Linked DNA regions of Homo sapiens: all the other regions are linked to region 3. The links come from fine-mapping of genetic effects on gene expression. A gene starts in region 3. Each other region holds a variant in brackets. All regions are shown on one strand. Distances are from middle to middle.

What was found. PIP is the estimated chance that this variant, and not a neighbour inherited with it, causes the effect.
Region 1: its variant is the best candidate, but not a certain one, in a credible set for the expression of RAB11A in whole blood (TOPMed, PIP 0.55).
Region 2: its variant is the best candidate, but not a certain one, in a credible set for the expression of RAB11A in whole blood (TOPMed, PIP 0.89).

What each region holds. Positions count from the first base shown.
Region 1 is chr15:65,899,103-65,903,102 of GRCh38, reverse strand. All of the region lies in intron 24 of MEGF11 (multiple EGF like domains 11), which reads left to right. Among named protein-coding and RNA genes, the nearest start is that of RAB11A, 32 kb to the right of the region's middle. RefSeq lists enhancers at 1-440, 527-746 and a silencer at 443-607. The variant A/G (reference allele first, on the strand shown) is at 2,037.
Region 2 is chr15:65,988,466-65,992,753 of GRCh38, reverse strand. The region is part of intron 5 of MEGF11 (multiple EGF like domains 11); the gene reads left to right. Among named protein-coding and RNA genes, the nearest start is that of MIR4311, 50 kb to the left of the region's middle. The variant AGT/T (reference allele first, on the strand shown) is at 2,556.
Region 3 is chr15:65,867,904-65,871,903 of GRCh38, reverse strand. RAB11A (RAB11A, member RAS oncogene family) reads right to left here and starts at 2,413. Exons shown (of 5, transcript NM_004663.5): 1 at 2,279-2,413. The coding sequence starts at 2,318. It overlaps TRQ-CTG1-4 (tRNA-Gln (anticodon CTG) 1-4), which reads left to right and starts at 2,771; the gene lies at 2,771-2,842. RefSeq lists an enhancer at 2,540-2,599.

The DNA of each region.
Region 1 (4,000 bases), 31 kb before region 3:
CTCCTCCTATCTCTCAATCAAGAGAAGGATGCTAATTTATGGCCCAGGAAGAGAAGAGGCAGTGTGGCCTTCTATTAATAGTAGCAAGCCAAGAAGCAAGAGATGGATATTCGGTGCCTGGGTTTTTCCCTGACAGTTAAGTTGGGCCTTAGTGGAGGTTAGCATGCACCTAGAAGCCAAGGTGGGCTCAGATCCCACACACAAGGTGGCCCTGGAAAGTCACTGCCTCTCTCTAGATTTGATGCTCCCTTTATAAAATGAAAATGTTTAGTTCATCTCAGAAGCCCCCTCTGTCTCTGACAGTGTATGACTATGTGGGGAGGCAGGAACCAGATGAGACCAAATGCCAGGGCATTACAGGACCAAGCCGCCAATCCTGATGCAAATGACAAGCCTTGGAGGAGTGACTCCCAGAGCTTGGGTAGCCTGGGTTGATGCTTCCTCTTTCTTTGCAAAATGCCCTGAAGGGCTGGGACTGGGACAGGGGTGGGGCTATGAAAGGATGAGGAAGTATCTAAGAGCAGCTGGTTATTCTTCCACTCAACCCTGCCCTCCCCTCTTGCAGGCAGGTGGATGACTCAGCTGGAGAACAAAGTGGCTTCCTGAGGTGGAGTTTCCAGCTTGCCCAGCCCTTCCCCATTCTCCAGTCCCAGTAGAGATGGGGTACAGAAGAGTCCATAATTCAACACCCTTTTCTCACCACCCAGCCAACACATACATGCACTGCTCCATCCTCTGCTCCTGTATGGAAGATACTTCCCCCTGAGCTTAGCCCCTCCCCACAGACATCAACTTCTCTTTTATCCATTTAGGATCATCCCCTGCTCCAGAGCCAACAATTGATTCCCCAAAACTTTAAAGTAGCCCCGACTTTTCTGGTGAAAATGAGAAGAGGCACTATCAACTGGCCGAGGTTCTTTTAGGCATTGAACTTCAAGGCTCTCCTACTGCCCTAACTCAGTCATGGGATATCCACAAAAAACTTAAGAGCTTAGCCTTTTTCTCTCAGCTGGGCTTAGCCCCATAGATGAAAGACATTCCTTGTTAAGGGTAAGGTGTAGCTGCTGCAGATACAGTTTGCCTTTAGAGATATGGACAGGAGCCCTGGATAACAAGACACGTAGTGAGGGAAAACATCTTGATTGGTATCAAGAGAAGACAGGGGTTGAGTCCTGACTAAACTATTTACTAACATTAGGAATTATATTAGCAAATTTTCTGAGCTTCAGATTCCTCATTCTAAAGTAGAAACAACAGTCCTTTCTGCCCAGCCCTATTCACGATGTAACAAGTTTCAAATGACCTAATTGGAATGAAGACTATACGTGCTACATAAAGTGGTTATTCCTCACATGTTAGAAAATATGCAGTTGAGGCAGCTGCAATAGCTTTTCTTTAAATACTACTAGTCCTCAGCTTCCAAACCAGAAGCTCTGTGCCTTACTGCCTTACTCCTTGACTGGTGAGTTCAGAGTAAGGTGGAGCTGCTGCAGATACAGTTTGCCTTTAGAGATAAGGACAGGAGCACTGGATAACAAGACACGTAGTGAGGGAAAACATCTTGATTGGTATCAACTAAGAGACAATAGGGGTTCAACTACTTACTAACATTAGGAATTATACTAGCAAATTTTCTGAGCTTCAGATTCCTCATTCTGAAGTAGTAATAGTCCTTTCTGCACAGCCCTATTCATTATGTAACAAGTTTCAAATGACCTAATTGGAATGAAGACTATAATTGCTACATAAAGTGGTTATTCATCACGTTAGAAAATATGCAGTTGAGGCAGGTGCAATAGCCTTTCTTTAAATACTACTAGTCCTCAGCTTCCAAACCAGAAGCTCTGTGCCTTATTGCCTTACTCCTTGGCTGGTGAGTTCAGAGAACCCAAAGTGGGACAGATGGGCCATGCTGGGGTTCTTGGACTTACCACCACTTCCTTGTACTAAAAAACTAAGTACCCTCTAAGGGGCAAATTTATGTGGTTTGGGCAGGTCACAGTCAAGGGTCCAAGCAGCTATGTAGAAATGAAGTC[A/G]CCTGTGCACATGGGGTCTCCATACACAGATGTGCCATCCTTGTCGACATCTAATAAAAATATATATGAAGTTGGTAGGTGTCTCAAATAAGTAACTTAGTGAAATCAGGGCACTAGTGCAGCATTTGAAATAAAAGTCAACCAGCATCTGGGCCTATATCTGGCCTCCCTTTAGGCCTTGCTGGTGCTAGCTGAGATCGTTCAGTGTCTCGCAAGGATGTTTTCTCCTTCTCTCTAGAGTCATATGCTAAAGAGGCCACAATCTTAAGACGTGACTAAAGCCAATATCCCTCTCTACTTCTGGGCTAAATTGTGATGGAAAATGCTGAGCCTGGTTCTACAGAGTTTGCTCTGCTAGTGATAAGCAGTGTGATCCTGAGGAAGTCAATTTCCACTCTAAATCTCATAAGCAATGACTTCCTCAATAAGCAATGAGAGGAGAAGGAGAGAGAGAATTATTGCTCTACCTATACCACAGAGTGTTGTGTGAACACTTGAAGGAACTAATGGCTGAACATATTTTTGTACAAGATTGAGGAAATACTATCTGCTGAAACAAACATCAACAGAATGGACATCTACTTTAACAGAAAAGTAAATACTCTTCCAACCAGTTGCCTTTTATGGGAGATAAGACTACTTGTGGTGGCACACATCTAGCTACTTCAGCCATACGGAGTGTTCTGCTTTCAGGGTCCCAAGGTACATCTAAGACATCCATTGAGTTACATTATCACTTTCACTTTTTACCATTTTCATTACTCTCACAAATTGGAGACAGCATAAATAGCAGCCCAAAATGTAAACTGTGGTAGTTCTAGTGACAGATCATCCAAGAATTTCACCATCTGCTACCTTTCACAGAAATTTAGTGCTGAGACGCCTTTTAGATCACTTCTATCAACTCAAGCAGCTCAGTGCTTGTGTCTAGATCCCTTGTCTAGCAGAGCTTCACAGAAGAAGGTCAGAGCTGCTAGATTAGAGTTTACTGCTCTTTCCAGGCAAATCCTGCCTTGCCTGGGACTATCTGCAGGAGTCAGTGATCTTCCCCAAACAGAGAATGGTACAGAGGCTGAAAGAGGGAATCCCCTTTCCTTCCGTAACTCCCAGTCACTAAAGAACCCATCTTCCTCCAGTGAAACTACAGTACCTCATTTCATATTTGGAAACCAGCCTGCATCCTTTTGTACTCTGAAGTCTCGGGGATGGTACAACTATACAACTGAGAGGTGGCAGGAAAGGAAGCATGAGCTCTAGTATCAGAAAGATACTGCTGAAATAGGTTTCAGTTAGCATTGACAAGAACAGGGGGGTAAGCAACCCAAGAACACGTTACAGGCTTGCTAGAAAACAGGAACTTTCCAAAGGCTAGCTTAAGACTGACGTGCTTTTTACACCTCAATTACACTTCAGTCTACCCTATTCTGATGAGCTCCTGGAGGGCAGGGATACTGCTAAGAGTCTGCCACTTATAGGCTGTCAAATTGCTGACATCTGTGCTAAAACATGCATGCCTACTTCTTCTGAACCTAAGCTTCTCAGTCATTGAAAACAATTCAAGTCAGGTGTGGTGGCACGTACCGATAATACCAGCTACTCAGGAGGCTGAGGCGGGAGAATCACTTAAGCCCAGGAGTTTGAGACCAGCCTAGGCAACATCTCAAAAAAGAAGAATTCACAAGAATATCATCACAGAAAATGCACAGGCCAAGGAGTCCAAAGGCATGGATTCAATTCTTGGCACTGCCATTCACTAGCTGTGTGACTTTAGCTAAGTCACTTCATATCTCTGAGCCTTGATCTCATAAAATGCAACTATCAGCAACCCTTGCAGGAATTTACAAAAATTAAATACATGTCAAAGCATATTATGCATATCTTGAATTAATACCCAACTACTAAAAACAAAAATGTTCCTATCCTCCAAAAACATAAGTTTCTTTGGAAAAAGAACTCTGCCTACC
Region 2 (4,288 bases), 120 kb before region 3:
CTCTCACACTTACTGTTCCTTCCCATTATCTGTCCACACAATACTGTGGCATTCTACATCCAGAGCAGATGCTGATTTAAAAAAAAAAAAAAAGTCCCCGATAAAGTCCCTGATAAAGTCCCCGAAGTTGATAAATTTGACTTTCCCATCTTCCCACCTCCTCTCTCCTAAAGCAGGTCAATAAACATACACATACCCTGCTGAATCTGGCTTCCAGATCTGCTAATTGCCACTTGGATATTAAGAGATAACTGAGATATTAATGGCTGATAGTGCCTCAGGATGTGACTAACCCCCCCCCCCACACACACACACAGAGGCACAAACGGGGTTGTTTGCATTTTAATAGGGATTCCTGCAGCCCTTGAGGAACGGGGTCCTAATGGTGCAGTGCCAAGCAGGTGCAGTGATATTTCAAGCAGGGGCTCAGTGTTGGTTTCAATTCAGCCATCTGCAGAGAGATGCCCGGCTCTGATAAAACTGCTCCTGAATCTCCCCACTCACTCCTGAAATGTTGATGGTGATACTCCTGGTTGAAATGGACCTGGCTGCCTGGAGCTGTGGTGGAAGCTACGGCAATAGAGATGAGGAAGGTAATGAGCTGGAGCAACTGCCTTTGCTCAGGGCATTGAATGTACCCATGGCCTTTGTTCCCCCTCCTGCCCTGCTGCCCGAGACACTGCCCGCTCCCGGGCCTCCTTGTCTCTAGCCTGACAGTGGAGCACCCTCCCCAGTTTTAGCAGACAGCTTGCCCAGAGCTCCTCTCATCACCCCGTGTTCTGACAGTTTCCCATTTGCTTGTCTGTTTCTCAAACTGACTGCAGGCTTCTGAGCCCCTAACATGATAGGTGCTTGATAATTGTTTGACATTGAGCCTCTCATCTCGTAATAGCTGGTGTGATGGGAGGCAAAGAGCCCTAGATGGATACAGTCAGCTAGTTTCAAATGCAGCTCTCCAGTTTGTTAGCTGTGTGGTCACGGGCAAGTCATTCAGCTTCTCTGGCCCAGTTTCCTGACCTGTAAAATGTGGAGTGTACACAAGATGACTTCTAAAGCCTAGCAGTAAAGAAAGCCAATATATGACTCTCAACTTCACCTTTCACAATCAGGTGATGTTACCCACTGCCAGGGGATGTTTGTCAATATCTGGAGGCACTTTTGATTGCCACAATTGTGTGTATGTGTGTCGGGGAGGTACTACTGGCATCTCGTGGGTAGAGGCCAGGGATGCCACTAAATGCCCTGCAATGCACAGGATGGTTCCCCATAGCAAAGAATTTTCTGGCCCAAAATGTGCTGAGGTTGAGAAGCCCTGATTTAGTTATTTAATGCCTCTGAACCTCAGTTTTCTCATTGGAAAATGGAATCATAATCACATCTCACATGGTTTACCTCAGATCCTCTTTGGAATGAGGCAGGGTATGAATAACTGGCACAGGATTAGTAAGAAAATTAGAGGAAACAACCCATGGGAGAATGCAGCTGGTCCCTGGTAAGCTCTCGGGGTTAGGGTTTTCCCCACGTGCGTGTGCTCACTCCTCCATCCCTGCTACCCTAGGAGATGGGTGGGATATGCAGCCGCAGCCTCTGTGAATCCCAGCCTCCCCTTGGAGGTTTAAGGGAGGTATAGACGGTGTGGTTAAGTAACACCGAGTAACAAGTGTAATAAATAGATCACTAAGAGCTAATGATACATCATTATAATCCTGTGCTGTCAGCATCTTCTAGGCTTAGGGACTGTGTCAAGAGATTTGGGTTTTAATCTACCTTGGTCTATTAATATTTAATTCCAACAATCTAAGTGGCAGAAAGATAGGAAACTGAGTGATAGCTCAGCTCAGAGCTCGGGTAACCACCTCCAATTTTTCTTTTTCATACAAACACACCTCCTATCCCTGTGTCCTCTGGCCTGTTTCTCAAGTGGGGACATTTGGCAACAGGGCAGAGAATCACACAGCATTGGGACTTGAAGAGTCTCCAGCATTTACCTACCAGTGTTTGTTTGTTTCTTTCTTTTTCTTTCTTTCTTTCTTTCTTTCTTCCTTCCTTTCTTTCTTTCTCTTCCTTTCTTCCTTTCTTCCCTTTCTTCCCTTCCCTTCCTTCTTTTTTCTTTTCCTTTCTCTTTTTTTCTTTTCTTTTTTTTCTTTTCTTTTCTTTTCTTTCTTTCTTTCCTTTCTTCCCTTGCTTGCTTGTTTGCTTGCTTTTGGACAGGGTCTCACCATGTTACCAAGGTTGGAGTACAGTGGCGCCATCACAGCTCACTGCAGCCCGACCTCTCAGGCCCAAGCAATTCTCCCACCTCAGCCTCCTGAGTAGTTGGGACTACAGGCACATGCCGCCACACCAAGCTAATTTTTATAATTTTTGTAGAGATGGGGTTTTGCCACGTTGCCCAGGCTGGTCTTGAACTCCTGGACTCAAGCTACCCTTCTGCCTCAGCCTTTCAAAGTGTTGGGATTACAGGTGTGAGCCACCGCATCTGGCCCAGTATTTCTGAATGGGGACATCTTTGGCATTTTTTATTTGTATTTTATTTATCTTATTTTTAGAGACAG[AGT/T]CTCTGTTGCACAGCTGGAGAGCAGTGGTACAGTCATAGCTCACTGCAGCCTCGACCTCCTGGGCTCAAGTGATCCTCTTACCTCAGCCTCCCAAGTAGCTGGGACTACAGGTGTGCACCACCACAGCTGGATAATTTTAGCTTTTGGTAGATAATTTTAGCTTTTGGTAGAGACAGGGTCTCACTGTGTTGTCCAGGCTGGTCTCAAGTGTCTAATCTCAGTGATCCTCCTTCCTCGGCCTCCCAAAGTTTTGGGATTACAGGTACGAGCCATTGCACACAGCCAGGATACAGTTCTAAATTGTGTACAATTGTCCCTGGGATTATTTGTGACAACCTAAATTCCCCCCTCCCATTTCCAGATGCTGTCTTGGGGAGGGTGACCTACTCCAGGCAAGAACCACTGATCCAAACCTGTTTTACAGATGTAAAAACAGAGGCCCAAAGAGGGAAGGAGGCTGCCCAGGAGTACCCAGCATTGGCTCTGACCCATCCTTCAGTGCTCCCTCAGAATTGCAGCTTAGGCCTGGAAAGAGCAAGGGGCTCAGCCTCGGAGAACTTGACTTTGCTTTTACTGGGGCAAGTCAGTTGACAAATGGCCTCACTCACTGGGAAGTCACTTTATTTATCAGCTGGAATGGTTTCCGGCGGCTGCTGCTCCATCTCTGCCTCCCTGCCTACTGCTTTGTAAACTCAGGAGCAATCCCGTGACCTGTCAGCTCTCGCTGCTGCTTCTGTGGGTGGGGTGGAAGATTGGGGGCCACAGACCTTTCTGGGAGGGGCTGTGACTGCATCAGGCCTTCCCATTGCTGGAGAGGAGAAGGGAGGTGGGGGCCTTGGCCCAGTCCTTAGTACAAGCTGGGGTAGCTCAGGGGCAGTGGCTTCCAGGTTCATTTCCATCCCTTGACCTTCAATTCAGAGGCCAACTCCTCCTGCTTGCTGGGTCTCAGGATTCCTGTCTATGGAATGGGAAGGACTAACCTTCTCTCCCACCCCACCTCCAGCCCAGCATCCTCCTGCACATCTCCCTGAGAGGACCAGTGAGAACAGAGATCATGGGAAAAAAGAGTTCTCACCTGGGGAGCTTTTCAAGGGACCTATGCTTGGGCCCTACCACCCTAGACCAATTCATTTGGAATGGCCATGGGTAGATCTCAAGCAAGAGTGTTTCTTAAAACTGCCCCAGTGATGCTGATCTGCAGCCAGGCCAAGAACCACTGTCTGAAGAAGTGAATCCTACAAGCAGCTGGGAGGGGGTTCTTTGGTAGCTGGGAGAAGGGCTGGCCAGTCACCTTCAACAGCACTGCTGACAGCTCTTCTTGTGCCCCGCTGAGCTGGCTGCAGGGTGGGACCAGATGGTGGATGTGGGGAAAGTAAAGGGCAATCACAAACTAAGGACACACCTTAGCTCCTGTCTTCCTCCAGCCCAGAGAGACTCCAGGGCTAATGCAGCAGACTGGGCACAGGCACCTAAACCTTCCTATACAGTAGTGAAGGCAGAAAAGTAATGGTCGGCCGCATTATTTATTATTCCTAGTACAGTCCATAACGGCATCAAAACATATTTAGTTGTGTCCCTTTAATGAATTGTCTTCAGGGACTCTAAAAGATACTTATATCCCAGTGTTCACTGTTGTCTTCTAGACAATAACCAAAAGGTGGAACAACTCAGTGTCATCAACAGACGAATGGATAAACAAAATGTAGTCTGTCCATACAATTGAATAGTAT
Region 3 (4,000 bases):
AACTTCTTTCACATTATTACCATTTATTGAGTCCTCATGGTTAAAATTTTACGAACAGTCTCATTATTTAATTCTCACAATCTTAAGAGGCAGGTATTTTCCTTTTTATAAAGTAGAGAACTGAGACTCAGAAAAGTTAACTTTTCCAAGGTCATAAAGTAAATATAAGACCTGAGTCAGGATCTAAACCGAGGTCTACGTGATTCCAAAGCTCAGTGCTCTCAATTGTTGCTAGAAGGATGGTCTAATCAAAAAGTTAAAATACTTTAGGCCAATTCAGAATATTTAATATTCTTTGTTAAAAAATAAAAGGACCTTGTATAACCAACATTCAAGTTCAAACCAAACAGGAGAAATACCCTGACGGTCTATCTTGTTCTGAATTAATTACTTCAAAGACAACCTTTATAAAAGCACACTACCATTATACCATATTTCAAAACACAAACCTAACCTTTAACCCCAAAGTCTCAAGAGATTCAAATAGTTTCACATCATCTCAGATACCTTCGGCAAAAGGTATGCTGTCATATACTTTTTGTAATCCAGGCCTCAGTTTTGTATTTGTAAAATGAACTAAGTACCCTGAAAGTACTTTCCAGTATGGAGGGGGAGGGTGGATACCAAAAGTATTCACCCTATACAGTAGAATATTCTGAGTCAGAGGAGTAAGAGATGATAAGAGTATAACAGCAGACTAGTTAGTATAACAAGATTTGCAAAGTATTGGGAAAGCAAAGAAATCTTTCCTGCTTGGTTTAGTCAATCATTCTTAGCACCCAATGGCAAAGACAGAAACAGTCACCATGCTTAACACTCTTGAAACTCCACCCTCCACAGTAAAGCTTTAATAGCAATGGCTTCTTCCTCAGTGGTAATGATCTTTGTTCGGCACACTACTGATGGCTACCTTCCCAATTCAGGAGCAGAGAAAGAGCATCAGAGTGAGAGTGCATTCACTGAACAAAAAAAGCATCTACTGTACTCTCTTCTCATTGAAAAATGTACCCTTTATCTTCGTTGATTAAAAAAAAAAACCGGATTCCTTCCGGACTCAACCAATAAGCAATTCTTTCTAACCAACCCTGACCCTCCAATATGTTCTGTCCAAGGGCACTACATGTTTCCGTATCTTATAATAAATATTTAATGTAACCAAAAGAGCACACAACTTCCTCCCACCCCCAACCTTTTGGGAAAGGTATGTGGCTAACTAGGGCTCTTCCCTTCCTGTTGGATCCTCCCAGCGTTGCAGCAGGAAGCAACCAGTTCATAGAGATAAAGCAAGCTAGTATTTGTGCAGCGCACAACCTTTCCTGCTCAGGAACCAGGCCTTCAGGTCTGGCAAGGATAACAGCCACCACCCATCCGCAACCTCATCTCGCGAACCGAGTAAAGAGTTATCCCGGGTTGGGTGCCACTGAGTAGGGAGGGCAAGAAAAGAAAAGGCTAGGTGGGAAGTAATGTCAGCCTGCCGGGTCACTGCGACAAGTGCGCGAGTGGGTGATGGGCGATCCCTCTTACCCTCCCTCCCACCACCCAGGTCGCAACGGAGACAAGGGAGCTCTAAACACGATTTGGGGAGGGAAGGTAGAGAGAGTTGCCAAATGGGGAGTGGGAGAGGGAGCGGTCAGAGAAGGTTAAGGACCGCGAGAACCGCGGGGCGGAGGGTGGGGGCGGAGGCCCTTGGCCCGCTCAGATTTTACGGGGTCCTGGACCCGGGATGGGAGAAGCTTAGAGGGGCGGCCGTCCAAGTGGAGGGGAGATACAGAAGAGACGCTCGCTCGAGGGGGGAAAGAGGGCAGATAAGAAAAAGACCTGTAATGGGAGTCTGCACCGAAGGCAAGGCCAAGAGGGAAGCGAAGAACCCGTCAGAGGGGCTTCGGGAGAGGACGCGAGCTGGGAAGGGTGTACGCCGAGGGGGAGGGGGCGCTACACCCGAAAAGAGAGATGGTGGGAGGAGCGGCGGGGCCGTAGAACCCGGGGAAAGGAATTCGACGATGTGGGAGAAGGCAGTCCGCCAGGGGAAGGACACGCAGGGAGGGGCTCTGAGGCCAGCGAAGGCCTATGGAGAGGTCGCTCAGAGAGCGGCATGTGATGGGGACCCCTGTCTGAGCGGGGGAGAAGAGGCTGAGCTGGGTAGGAGACGGAACCGCACAAAAAGGAAGGGCTGAGGGAGGCCTATATCAGTGCAGGGGTGGCCGGCACGAGGGTCCACCGGGAGTGGCCCGGGTCCCCGAACGAGGACTGTGTAGAGTGCGAGAGCCCATGGCCTCACCTTTAAAGAGGTAGTCGTACTCGTCGTCGCGGGTGCCCATTGCGCGGCCGAGGAGCGAAAGGGCGGGAGCAGCAGTGGTATCTGTGGGACCAGGGGGCGTCGCTGCAGGGGTAACCCGAGCGCCGAGCTTCAACTGCCGGACTGGGTGAAGAGCCCCTCCCTGCCGCTGCGCCATTTCCGGCAGGCCCCAGCCTTTAAGGGGAAGTACTTCCGGGGGCGGCGCCCCGCCCCTGAGCCCAACAAGGGCGGTGTGCGCGAGAGTCGAGATGCGTGGGGCTTCAAGCTTTAGTCGCTAAAGGAGGCTCAAAGGGGAAACTGAGTCCTGGAACTCCTAGCTACCATAGTCTTAGTGGCCGCTTGCTCATTTCTCGAGCTACCGTGCCGGAAGCGGCTCGCTGGAACCAGGCGGGACCGCCTGTGAGTGGTGGGTTTGTGGATGGGGGCGGGGTTCTCTGAGGATTAGACAGCCGAAGGCAGCTACACATGCGTGGCGGTTCCATGGTGTAATGGTTAGCACTCTGGACTCTGAATCCAGCGATCCGAGTTCAAATCTCGGTGGAACCTGCATTGGTTTTTGTTTTTTTAATCTTGACAACATCTTTAATTCACTTTTTTGGTCACTAAGTAATTGAACAACTATGACACATCTTAAGATGGAGATGTAAAATTTAATCCTTGCCTATGAAGACCTCACAAATTTCCCACTGCATTTCAGGTGCTATCTGCTACCTGGCGGGGGGTTGTCTTAATGAGCTTCTTCACTGCCTTTTTTTTAACCCTGGGCTTTCAAGCCTTGATTCAAAAGCTTCAGTGAAACTTGAAAATTCCTTTTGCTGGAATTTTCTACCTCCAGCTTCATGCACGGGTAGGCGCTTGTCACTCACTCCTCTCCGGAAATCTCGCAATCTATCTCATTTTCATTTAGAGTACTTCGCCCACCCTCCTCATCAAGATTCATCAAGAACTTGAGTCCTATTTGTAGGCCTCTAATCTAAGTCCGTTTACATAAGTATTTCATTTAACATGCCAAGCAAAGGATGGTAATTTCCATTTTAGCGGAAGTTTGGATACTAAGACTCAAGTGATTTGCCAGATATCATGTCGCAGGGCCTCCCTGTATTTGAAGAGAATTTTGTCATTCCAGAAAAGCCTTTATCCAATTATTGTCACACCTCCTACCTCCTATATGCAAACTCTCGATTTAGACTTGTGGGCAAGTATGCCTATAACAAGCAGAATAATGCCCCCTGCCAATGATGTCCACTTCCCAATTCCTGGAGACTGAATAGGTTAGGTTACATGGCAAAGGGGAATTGAGGTTACAGATGAAATTAAGGTTGCTTATCAGCTGACATTAAATTAGGGATATTATCCTGGATTAGTTGGGTGGGCCCAGTGTTGTCATAAGGTCCTTAAAAGTAGAAAATGGGCTGGGCACGGTGGCTCAGGCCTTAATTCCAGCACTTTGGGAGGCCAAGGTGGGTGGATCACCTGAGGTCAAGAGTTCAAGACCAGCCTGGCCAACAAGGTGAAACCCTGTCGCTACTAAAATACAAAAAATTAGTCTGGCGTGGTGGTGGGTGCCTGTAGTCCCAGCTACTCTGGAGGCTTAGGCATGAGAATTGCTGGAACCCGGGAAGCGGAGGTTGCAGTGAGCTGATACCACGCCACTGCACTCCAGCCTGGGCAACAGAGAGAGACTCGTTCTCAAAAAAAAAAAAA